2 linked regions of the Homo sapiens genome follow. The protein of the gene in region 1 interacts with the protein of each later gene in a pairwise test. Each region holds a gene or a part of one and is shown on either strand. Other genes may lie near its edges.

What was found. Proteins that work in one complex are often made in the same cells at the same time.
Region 2: the proteins of PARVG (region 1) and PDLIM7 interact in binary tests that used the Homo sapiens proteins (3 or more experiments, as listed by UniProt).

The regions. Positions count from the first base shown.
Region 1 is NC_000022.11:44,204,908-44,208,988, reverse strand, and holds the end of PARVG (gamma-parvin), read right to left. Parts: intron 3,233-4,081; coding exon 3,160-3,232; intron 2,673-3,159; coding exon 2,563-2,672; 3' UTR 520-2,562; downstream 1-519. UniProt on the Homo sapiens protein: Plays a role with ILK in promoting the cell adhesion and spreading of leukocytes.
Region 2 is NC_000005.10:177,487,589-177,494,624, forward strand, and holds part of PDLIM7 (PDZ and LIM domain protein 7), read right to left. Parts: intron 5,090-7,036; coding exon 4,938-5,089; intron 4,848-4,937; coding exon 4,817-4,847; intron 4,338-4,816; coding exon 4,219-4,337; intron 3,833-4,218; coding exon of another isoform or gene 3,816-3,832; intron 3,559-3,815; coding exon 3,422-3,558; intron 3,319-3,421; coding exon 3,282-3,318; intron 3,006-3,281; coding exon of another isoform or gene 2,909-3,005; exon of another isoform or gene 2,658-2,908; intron 2,444-2,657; exon of another isoform or gene 2,245-2,443; coding exon 2,183-2,244; intron 2,040-2,182; coding exon 1,805-2,039; intron 661-1,804; coding exon 480-660; intron 1-479. UniProt on the Homo sapiens protein: May function as a scaffold on which the coordinated assembly of proteins can occur. May play a role as an adapter that, via its PDZ domain, localizes LIM-binding proteins to actin filaments of both skeletal muscle and nonmuscle tissues.

The DNA of each region.
Region 1 (4,081 bases):
TAGCTGGAAAAAAAATCCCAAAATATTTGGAAATTATACACTTCTAAATAACCCATGAGTGAAAGAGGAAGTCACATTTGAAACTAGAAGATATTTTGAACTTCATGAAGGTGAAAACACAACATATTAGTATCTGTGGGATGCAGCTAAAGCTGTGCTTAGAAAAAAAAATCCAGCATTAAATATTTATATAAAAGAAAAATATTCTCAAATCAGTGATCTTAGCTCCCCAATATTTTTAAGATGTCAGTTTTCCCCAGTTTGATCTAAAGAACACAATTCCAGTCAAAATTTCAGCAGGCTTTTTTGCAGAAAATGACAAACTGATTCTAAATTTTATGTAGAAACCAAAAGAATTAAAAAGACCTAGAAAAACCAAAATAATTTTTGAAATGAAGAACAAAATTGGAGGACTTATTTTTGAATGTACTAAGGACATGAGTTGTTGATACAAGAAACAATGGAGATACTCTCAATAGCATTATGCTAAGTGAAAGAAATCAGACACAAAAAGCAACATACCATAGGATACAGTTTATAAGAAATTCTAGACAAGTCTAAATGATGGTGACAGAAAACAGATCAGTGGTCCCCAGGGCCAGGGGCTGGGAGAAGGGAACTGGCTGCAGACAGATGCAGAAACTTGCATGGTGATGGGAATGTCCCATGTCTGGATAACGATGGTGGTGGTTATATGACTGCATGCATTTGTCAAAACTCATCAAATTGTACACTTCAAACTGGGAAGTTATTTTTCAATAAAGCTACAGTAATTAAATAAGTCACTTTTTTTTTAATTGCTGTCAAATAGAACAAGAGTGAGGACGTGGAACAGCCAGGCAGAGCCAGCCTGCAGCGGATGGGGCCCAAGCAAGTGAGGACTCAAAGGCCCCAGGAAGTGGGGCTGGATTTCAGGCTTTTGGGATGAAGCCAGCTGAGAGAGGCTGAGCCTGTGTCCCCAGAAGCTCCAGGAGAGGATTTGAGGTGCTGGAGGGGGCATCGCAATGGAGGGGGCACCTGAGCAGGTGGAAGGAGCTGGGCTCCAGGTACCTGGTGTGGGAGGATGCACGTTTCCCAGAGGCAGCCGGGAAGTAGGGTGGGTATCCATGAAGAGGGGTGCATCTGAGTGCTCACGTGGAACACGCTTATGGGCTTGGGTTTGCCCTGTGAATTGGGAGCTGAGAAGGGCAGGCAGATGGGAGGCTAGGTGAAGGGAAGACCCCTCAAGGCCTTCTCACACCCAGACACCAGCTCCCAGGGCTGACCTGGCACTGCGTCCCTGGCTCCCATCTTGCTCCCCCGAAGGACATCTGCCTAGGCGCCCCCAGTGGGTGTCAATGATGACCTAGCCCCTAACCCCCATCTAAAGCCCCTCCCCAAGGCCTCAGCTGTCAAACTGTGAAAACCCCAGACCCAGAGGCCTCTTCAGGGTCCAGGGAGGAGCAGCAGCCTGGGGCTGTGGTTGCCCTTCTCCCCAGCCTCACCCCTCCCCACAAGTCCCACTCCTCCCCACAAGTCCCACTCCTCCCCACCAGGCCCCAGCCCTCCCCACCAGCCTCACCCCTCCCCGCCAGCCTCACCCGTCCCCACAAACCCTCCCCTCCCCGCCAGCCTCACCCGCCCACTAGCCTCACTCCTCCCCACCAGTCCCACCCCTCCCCGCCAGCCTCACCCCTCCCCGCCAGCCTCACCCCTCCCCATCAGTCCCACCCCTCCCGGCCAGCCCCAGCCCTCCCCACCAATCTCACCCCTCCCCGCCAGCCTCCTCCCCGGTTCCCATCAGCCATCAGCTCTGCCCCACTCTGGATGCCCTGGACTGACTATGTGCAATTCTCCCACACGACTCTTCTTTATGTGCAGAAAATGCCAAGTCTCACTGGAGCGAGTGGGAACCCACAGCTCCCGAGGACAGACTGGAGATGACCTGAACCCACTAATCAACCACGAAGATTGCTTCTTTGTGACTTTTGGGCAAAACTCACGAGGGCAGCTGCAGGACACAGCCCGGGTTGCTTTGACAGTCACTGAATCCACTTCTCCCGGTGGGTGGGGGCATGGCTATGGAGCCATTCGGGCTCCTGCCCTGGAGGGTGACTCTGGGGCCCATCCTCCCGAGTGAGAAGCAGGTGGGTGTGGGGAGCTGGGCTGGAAAAGGTGGGGTCTGGGGCTGTGGGCCCTGTCCCTGAGAGTCCCCAGCCCTGAGTGATGCCACCTCTCTGGGCGGTCACTAGCCTGGGCCCAGAGATGAGAGACTGATGTGACACACACTCACCCCATGGGAGGGAGGCTGCAGGTTTAAGGGCCCTCCTCAGGACCCTGTCAAGTTCCCAGAATCCCTCCCAGAAATACTTTTATTAAAATAAACTGAGCAAGGCCAGGCGGCTCAAAATGATCCACACAAGGGGGTTCAAAGATAATCCAACGATGGAGACAGGAGACAGGGTGGGAGGGAAGCGGGTCACGAATGCACAGGAAACAGCGGGACTGTGGGAGGACACCCTGCAGCCTCGGGCCCTCCAGCTGGGCTGACAGGCAGGCTCTGGGCTTTGGAGGCAGTGAGGGTCAATTCGGGGCTCCATGGGGCGTCCTGTCCCTGTGTGCCTTCTGCGTGTGCTTGCAGAACAGACCATAGAGCACCCTCAGTGTGCTCTTGGCATCCTTGTTCACGATATCTGCGGGCCAAAGGAGGGCAGGGCAGCCAGTCAGGCCTGGGTGGCAGTGACCGACTGTCCCGATGTGGTCAAGGTTTCCTGGCATTCAGGATTTCAGTGCTAATCCCAGGAGAATCCCTGGAAGCCAGGACAGCTGGTCACTCCAGGCCTGGGTCCCGCGCCTGCTGCGTGACTGCCTCCTCCTCCTGGCCAGTCCTCCTCTGAATGCTCCTGTGGTGCCCCCAACACAGCAACTCCTCAAGGTCTGGCTTCTCTGGACAACCTGTCCCCAGAGACCTTGGTCTCCCCCTCCCCAGAACCTCTTCCCCTGGGGCTGCAGTGCCCCCTCCCAAGAAACCTTGGCAAGCGCCCATTCTCCACCCCTGCCAGGCAAGAGGACTCTGCCAATGCGTGCTCATCCCCCAATGCCCTGCACCCTGTTCTGTGGCTCTCGCACAAGGCTGCCACCCAGGGCTGGCCACCGTGTGGGCATCTGCCTTGCACTCACCTTCAGGGCTGACAGGGCAGCTGAGCAGGCCCTCGTCCTTCAGCAGCTCCAGCGCCAGGGTGACGTTGTGCAGCTATGATGACAAGGCCCTATCAGATGTGGGCACAAGCAGCAGCCCCAGGCCAGGCCTTGGGTCCCAAGTGCCAAGCCCTTCCTGTTGTCTGTGATGTCCATCATGAGCCTAAACTCCCATCCAAGGTGGGCATCCCTGACCACGACCACAATCCGTGGTCATCCAGCATCTCCCTACAGCTCACTCTGTCACACAAGCAATCCATGTCTCATTCCTCAGCCACTCACAGGCCCCACTCTGAGCAGGTGCTATACCACACTGGGCACACGCTTGCGTCCAGGGGCCACTGCCCGTGAAAAAGGCAATCGCCAAGGAGGATACCCAATAGGGATCAGGGAAGGCTTCCTGGTGGAGGTGAAGCCTGGTGGTGAGTCCCGCCAGGCAGGGAGAACTACCCAGGGAAAGGAGCAAGGGCCTGGGGTGGCAGAGCACCTTTGAGAACAGCTGTTTCCCAGGGCAAAGCACAGTGAGGAAATCAAGGCTCAGAGGAGCCAAGGGGCTCACTGGAGCTCACGAGACAGAAAGCGCTCAAACCAGGTCTGTCCGCTCCAATGCTCATGCAAAGCAGGCTAGAGACTGGAGCGGTCCCCACCCAGGTGGCTGTCCTTTCCGCCACCCCTTGCCTGGGGTGCAGTCTCAGAGATGGCTCCCTTTAGGGTGGAGAGCGCCCGGGCATCAGTCAAGTCCCCCAGTGATTCAGAGCTCAGCTTAGTCCCTGCCCAGGGCCTCCCCTTGCTCCCCTGCAAAGTGGGCTCACCACAGTTCCCCTGTGCCTTGCTACAGGATATGGTGAGAGCCCAGGAGCCTGCCGGCCCTCCCACAGTAGGTCCCCTCCCTTTCCATTCTAGC
Region 2 (7,036 bases), on another chromosome or scaffold:
TTTTTAGATGAGAAATAAGCCACCATTATTTTGAGTTTCCCACTGCTCGTGGTCAAGGTAAACCTCACTAATATGAACATCACCACACAGAGCTCTCTGGCTACTCCTGGCAGCCCTGGCTCTGGATCCAGAAATGAGGAGGACGCATGAGACAGAGCAGCTTCAGCGTGTCAAGTTGGCCGTTCTGTCATTTCACCAGGGCAGGGAGAGCCCAAAGTGGGAGTCAGGAGGGCCCAGGGCTTCTCCTGGCTTGGTCCTCCTGCTCTTTGCAGCCTTGGGCGGTTTCTGAGCAGGAACATGGTCATTTGTTAAGAGCATCCTGACTAATGCAGGGTGAGGCCAGTACAGCAGCCCATTTATTACGCTGGTAAGGACCCGGAGGGCTCACTCGGGGAGAGACCTGGACTGTGGGTTTCCCAGCAGCCCTCGTTCCCACTGACAGGCTTGGGACCACCTCCCCGCCAGCCAGCCCTACTCACGCCTGTAATCTTCTTCTTGCACTTGGCACAGCTGGGTGCATAGCGCACGTCATAGCATGGTGGGCAGAAGATGGCGCCCTTCTCCTCAAAGAAGCCACCCTCTTCCAGGACCTTCCCACACTGGCTACACACAAACTCCTCCGGGTGGTACGCGTGGCCCAGCGCCACCAGGTAGCGGCCCCTGCAGGGAGGCGAGAGCGGTCAGAGGGAGCACACGCAGAGAGGTGGGGGTCTTGGCCCCCTTCAGGTTGACTGACCACCCACCAGGAGGCCTTGGGAGGGACAGTTCATTCTCCCCATTTTCCACATAGGATAGAAGACAGGCTTGGGAAGTGACCGTGGCAGCCGTGAAGCTTACAGAGCCAGTCCGCCACACTGAACTGCTGGTGACAGGAGAGGCAGCTTTAGAGCAGGGAGGACCCCGGGAGGAAGGGCTGACGACTGGAGCCTCATAAAAGCTGAGCCGCCCCTGGGCAAACCCTGGAGCTGCCCTGTCCTGCTGGCCTGCCTGTTCTACCTGGCAAGAGCTGATAGAGTCGGCTGGGCACAGTGGCTCACACCTGTAGTCCCAGCACTTTGGGAGGCCAAGGCAGGCCTGAGATCACCTGAGGTGAGGAGTTTGAGACCAGCCTGGCCAACATGGTAAAACCCCGTCTCTACTAAAAATACAAAATTAGCCAGGCATGGTGGCGGGTGCCTGTAATCCCAGCTACTCAGGAGGCTGAGGCAGGAGAATCTCTTGAACCCAGGAGGCAGAGGTTGCAGTGAGCCGAGATCGCGCCACTGCACGCCAACGTGGGCAACACAGTGAGACTCTGTTTCAAAAAAAAAAAAAAAAGAGCTGACAGAGATGAGAGCAGGCCAGGCCTGCGAATTAGGAAGGCTCTAGAATCCGGCACGCTGATGCTGGGGGGTGTTTGATGCTGCTTGGCCCCACGGGGCAGTGCACAGAGGGAGTGGCTCCAGGCCTGTATGCTCTGAGAGCAGAGGGAGACAGAGAGCAGGAGGGAGGGGCAGACGCGCTGGGAGGGGGCAGGCCCCTCTTTGCCCAGAGAGCAGCAAAGGTAGGGGTGCAGCTTCAGCCTATGGTTGGCCCTTCGGCTATTTCGCCACGGCAGATGCTGCTAGCAGTTGTTGTGGGTGGGCTGGGGTAGGTAGCGTGGGATTAAGAATGGGAGGACCCAGCCCAGGTCCCTACTCCTACTCCAGCTGAGAACTGAATCCTTATTCCCCCCAGTCGCAGCTGAGGCAAGACAGGTGGGCAGACAGGTGGGGCTGGGCTGCAGGATGGGAAAGCCAGGGTCGGACAGGAACAGGCCACCCACCGGATGACCTTGTGGCACTGGTGACACACGGGAGTCTTGCCGTTGTTGCTGCCCCCTCCTGGCACCCCTCCGGCAGCTGCCTGCACAATGGAGGTGCGGCTCTGCAGCGGCGTGGGCGTGGCCGGCTGGCTGTGCCGGGTCAGCACTGTGCTCGTTTTGTCCGGGGCATAGCGCTCGGCAAACGCAGGGTCCACAGCCCAGGGCGGGCGGCTGGTAGGGCTGGGGGCGGTAGGGCCTGCCGGGGAAAGTGACTCTAAAGGGGTGCCCAGGGACCCCAAAGGACGGGGGTGGAGCCCCAGGCAGCTGAGAGAAGCCCACCACCCCCATGCCCCTGGAGGCTGCCCACCCTTGCCCAGGCCCGAGCCCACTCCCTCTCACCAGGCCAGGGCTCCTGGGGTGTAGATGAGGCTGGGGCTGGGGCTTCTGTCCTGGGCACCTGGCTGCAAGATCTGCCATTCAAGGCCCTGCATGGCTGAGCTTCCTGACATGGCCCCACCCCCCAACCTGGGTCCTGCTGGCCCCACGGGAGATGACTGGGGGCGTGGAAACTGCCGAGTTGGATTCCAGGTCCCACTGGGGTAGGGATGGGAAGGGCAGCTTCTCCTAGCAATGTCCAGTTAGCTGGTGTGCGGTCTCTAGCTGGGAGACGAGGCAGGGCTCCCGCTTCTGAGGCAGCTCCTGGGGTTCCCCTCATGCCAGGAAGCCATCTGTGATGGCAGGGCAGGGCCCCTTTGCCAGGTACCCCCTCCCACTGAAAACGAGGACGGCAGGGCCCAAACAGTCCGAACCACGAAACACCCCCACACCCCAAATGCAAACCAGGTCCACAAAGATAGAAGACAGGCAGAGCAAGCAGGGCTGAGAATGTTTATTCCATGCCCAAGGCAGCACAGACCTGGCAGACAGCAGTACCACAGGGCAAAGAGGGAAGGCAGTGTCAGATGAACCCAGGTGGGCGGCCAGGGCCAGGCCAGCAGGAGGCTCAGGCCAGGGGCACGAAAGGGGGGGTGAGGTAGGCAGAAGCTGGAGGCACTAAGGGGGTGCCCTGGGCAGGAGGAACAGAAAGAGGGAGGCAGAGAGGGCAGCCGGCTGGAGAGGGCCGGGCTACGACTGCACGTTGAGCACGTGGGCAGAGCGCTGGTGGTGCCAGTCCCGGAGGCGGGTGTAGCGTGGGCTCTGCAGCTCCAGGACATACTTTTCCCTGAGGGGCAGAGAGAGAGGGAGGAAGAAGTGGAAGGAAGGAGAGATGGAAGGGAGGCAGGGAGGGAGGAGGGAAGGAAGGAGGGAGGGAAGAAATGAAAGAAGGAAGGAAGGAGGAAGGGAAGGAAGGAAGGAAGGAAGGAAGGAAGGAAGGAAGGAAGGAAGGAAGGAAGGGAGAATTGAGAGCCCCAGCTGGGAGCCTCAGGAGTAGACACAGGGCAGTAGCTGGAATGGAAGAGGCAGGAGGTGGGAGAGGGGCTGGTGCCCGTCCCTGTACCTTGATTTCTTCAGGTGCTCCTCATCCGGGTCTTGCACTGAGAGGGCAGAGGCAGGCATTGACCAAAAAAGACACAGGGTCAGGGATCACGCCTGGGCTGGGGGCGAGGAAAGTACCCCCTGCCCTGGGCTGGCACTTACTGAACTCGGTGCCTGTGAGGTGGGCAAGGATGCGGAAGGAACGCGACTGGCCTGTCCCCGGCCGCGGCCGCCAGTCCTCTGTGTTCTCCATCAGCCGCTGCTTGCTGGCATCTGGGACCAGCGGTCGGAGCGGCTGTCTGTGGGGAGGGTGTGGCTCAGAACCCCACACTGGGGGTGGGCGGTGGGGGCAGCCCCTCCCAGGATTTGGTGCATGTGGGTTTGGGTTACAGTGATGGGAGGGAGTGGGTAAGGGTGAGGCCAGGAGCCCTGCTGGGCGGGTAGGTGAGAGGACAGGAGGGCGAAGTGGAGAGGAGGGCAGCCAGGGTGGGGAGGGGCCGCCACCCAGAGTGCCAAAAGGAAGAAGAAAGGCACAGGCAGAGGGGGGCTCACTGACTTGTCAGGGGTCTGCACCTGTGAAGGAAATAAGACAGACAGACAGATAAAGGGACAAAGGGACAGACACAGGAGAGGAAGAAAGACGGGGAGGGGTCAGAACAGCCGGGGACAAGGCGGCACTGAGTGTCTGGGGCTCAGCTGGCCCGACACCACAACCCAACCCCCAGCCGCCAGCAGGGGGCGCGGCGTCATTCAGAGACCCCTCCCCAGGGCGGTGCCCTGCAAGGCGCCACAGCCTCGGGAGGGGCCCTGTGCCTGCAGCCCCACCCCGGCCGCCAGGGGGCGCTGCCGCACGGTTCCGCCGGGCTGGGGCGCAGCACAGACTGAGCAGCAGCGGGCAGCGGGCGTGGGGCCACAGTGGGCCTGATGGCGTGGGCGCGGGCGGGCAGGGGCCGACGTACCCATTCTGCTGCGGGGCGCTGTCAGCGGGCGGGGGCGCCCCAAAGGGCCGGGCCGTCTTGTTGAGGGAGACGCTGGGTGCAAAGGTGTACCGCGGAGGGTCCGCGGCGGGGGCGGAGGCCTGGGCAGAGACACAGCCGGGCAGGGCGGGCGGGCAGGGTAAGGTGGGGGCCTGGGTGGAAGTGGGGCGCCTGCAGCAGAGGACAGCGGCAGCTCCAGCCCCCCACCCCCACCCCACCCCCTACATCTATTTGGAGGCTACGGGGAGAGGACGACTCAGGTTTCAAGGGGCCCATTTGGGAGTGGCGATCTCAGTCCACGCAGGACCGAGGGCTGACCGAGTGCGGGCGAGCACGCAGCGCCGGCGGCGGGAGGCAGCAGGCGGACAGACAGGCGGACAGACAGGCGGACATGCGTGGTGCCAGGACCGTGCAGCAGCCCCTGGCTCAACTCCAGGGCCCTAGACCCGCCTTAGCTCCGGTTTCTGCCCTCCACTCCCGGCCAGGGATTGGGGTACCGAGAATGTGCCAGGAGGGCGAGCAGGCCTGGCCGTCCAAGCCCACACCGCCCACCGCCCGGATGTCCCGGCCAGCCTCGTACCTTCTGCGGTTTGCTCTGAACCGGCTGGGCCCTGGAGGAGAAGGAAAGCGTGACAGCGGGCCGGGCCCGCAGGGATCCCCACTGCCAGCGCGGGCGCACCCATCCATGTCCACCCGCATACCTGCTGAGGCCCAGGCTGAGGCGCTCCCCGCAGGCCCGGATCTTGTTCTGAGCTTCGATGTGTGTGAGGCTACCCGCATTCTCGCCATCGATGCTCAGCACCCAGTCACCCACGGCCACTCCGGCCTGCGCCGCTTTGCCCCCAGGAGTGAGCTGTGGAGAGAGAAGCAAAGTGACCGAGGCCCTGGACCCTGCAGACCCAAGCCAGGCTGACGGTGGTAACACTGCCCCACCCAAAGCTGTCCCACTTCCAGAACCCAGAGAGCTCTTCATTCAACATAGTTCTAGGCAGCTGCTGGACACTAAAGCAACCCAGGAGGTGGTGGCGCTCACCTGAGCTTCACAATTTCCCAGTCACACTGCTTATTTATTCACTGCCAGACCCTCTCCCTCAGGTGGTGCTCACCTGAGCTTCCCCAGTCACGATGCTTATCTATTCACCGCCACCACCCTCCCCCACAGTCCAGAAATTGCTATGATGTCCACAAACAGCCACGCTCAGGCTAAAGCCCAAGTGTTTCAGGAGGACCATTGCCTTTTGAGGCTCCTGCTGGCCTCCTGCCCAGGCCACTCCACCTACCAGATATGCCCTCTGGCCCATGCAGGGGGCAGCTTCCTCCCCGAAACCACCGGGGGCTCTTATGGACCTCTCACCCCCCAGCACCCTGTCGGGGGCCATCTATAGGGGTCTGCTGGGACCCTTTGAGAGCCAGGAACAGGCCCTGTTATCTCCCGGTTCCCTGTGAACACTGCCTGAATGGGACCTAAGTTGACAGCTGGGACTTCGTAGGCCATACATGGCTGTCACTCCCAAGCCCTCGACTGCCAATTTCCCCTGACCCCAATCCTTCAGGCTCTTGAGCTGGGAGTCCCTGGTTCCTGTGGCAATGAGTAGAGACAGTAGGCTGGGAGAAATGGCTGCCACCAGCATGAGCTGAGACCATCAGGAATGACTTTGAGGAAGCGGTGGGCCTCGGTAAAGGAGAATGGCGTGTGCTGCCTAGCGGGTGAGAGTTCACTTACGATGGCTTTGAATGCCAGGGGAAGGGACCAGGACTTGGCTTTGAAGGTAGAGGGGCTACTGGCAGTTTTAATGTCTGGGATTGGGTATCTCCCAGGCCCTGAGAGGGTGACCCTGATAAACCCCTTCCAGGCCTCTAGCCCAGCCCCAGCAACACAGGCAGGGCAGCTTGACTGGGTCCAAGCCTAAGGGACCACCCAGCCATCTGGCAAGAGGCCTGGCACTGCATCAAGTAGGCTTTTGTGAGGCAGTGCTGGAAGACAATTTCACTGGGTGGGGGGGATCTGGGGGGGTCCAGGCTGCCAGTGGCCCCAGGAGGCTCCTCAGGTGGGTCAGTGCACAGACTGAGCTGAGGCAGGGAGAGGGGAGGCAAGAGGTTTCAGAGAGATGTCAGAGGGCAGGGCAGCCAGGCACAGAGCTTGACAGCACTGGGAAAAGAAAGGCGAGCTGGGCTCAACATGACCTCTTGCTTGCGTAGGAGGTCAGAAGGCTAAGAGAGCTCGGCGGCCCCTTCCTCACTCGCTAGATAAGAAGACTTGCTTCAGTTTATTGAGCACCAACTATGCTACATATTGACACTGAATCTTCCAACAACCTTGTGGAGTAATCTGGGATTTTACCCATTTTGCACTTGCAAATGTACACAGAGAGGTTAAACAACTTGCCTCAAGTCACCCAGCTAGTAAGAGGCAGAGCCAGGAAGTGTCTCTGACCCTAAGGCTCCACCACTGTGGGCCACCTCTGCTGAGCATGGGGGCCCAACTGAGGGGTCAGCCCACCTGGAGACACCCTGAGCCACTCCCTCACCTTTAGTTCAATCCAACTAAATCAACCCCTTATACTGTGTATGGGGAAGTGACACCCCAGAGGGGAAGTGACTTACTCAAGGTCATGGTGAGTCAGTAGAAGGGAAACCTGGCCCAGCCACTCCCTGCCCACAGGGCTGGCTCCTGGGAGCTGTGGGCTGAGCCCGAGGTGGGGGTCTTGGGGTGCAGCTAGCTGGCTCCTGGAGAGGGGGTGGGGGGCGGGGACGGCTTCCCTTCCCAGAGTGAGGAGGGCAGGAAGCACAGAGGATGAGG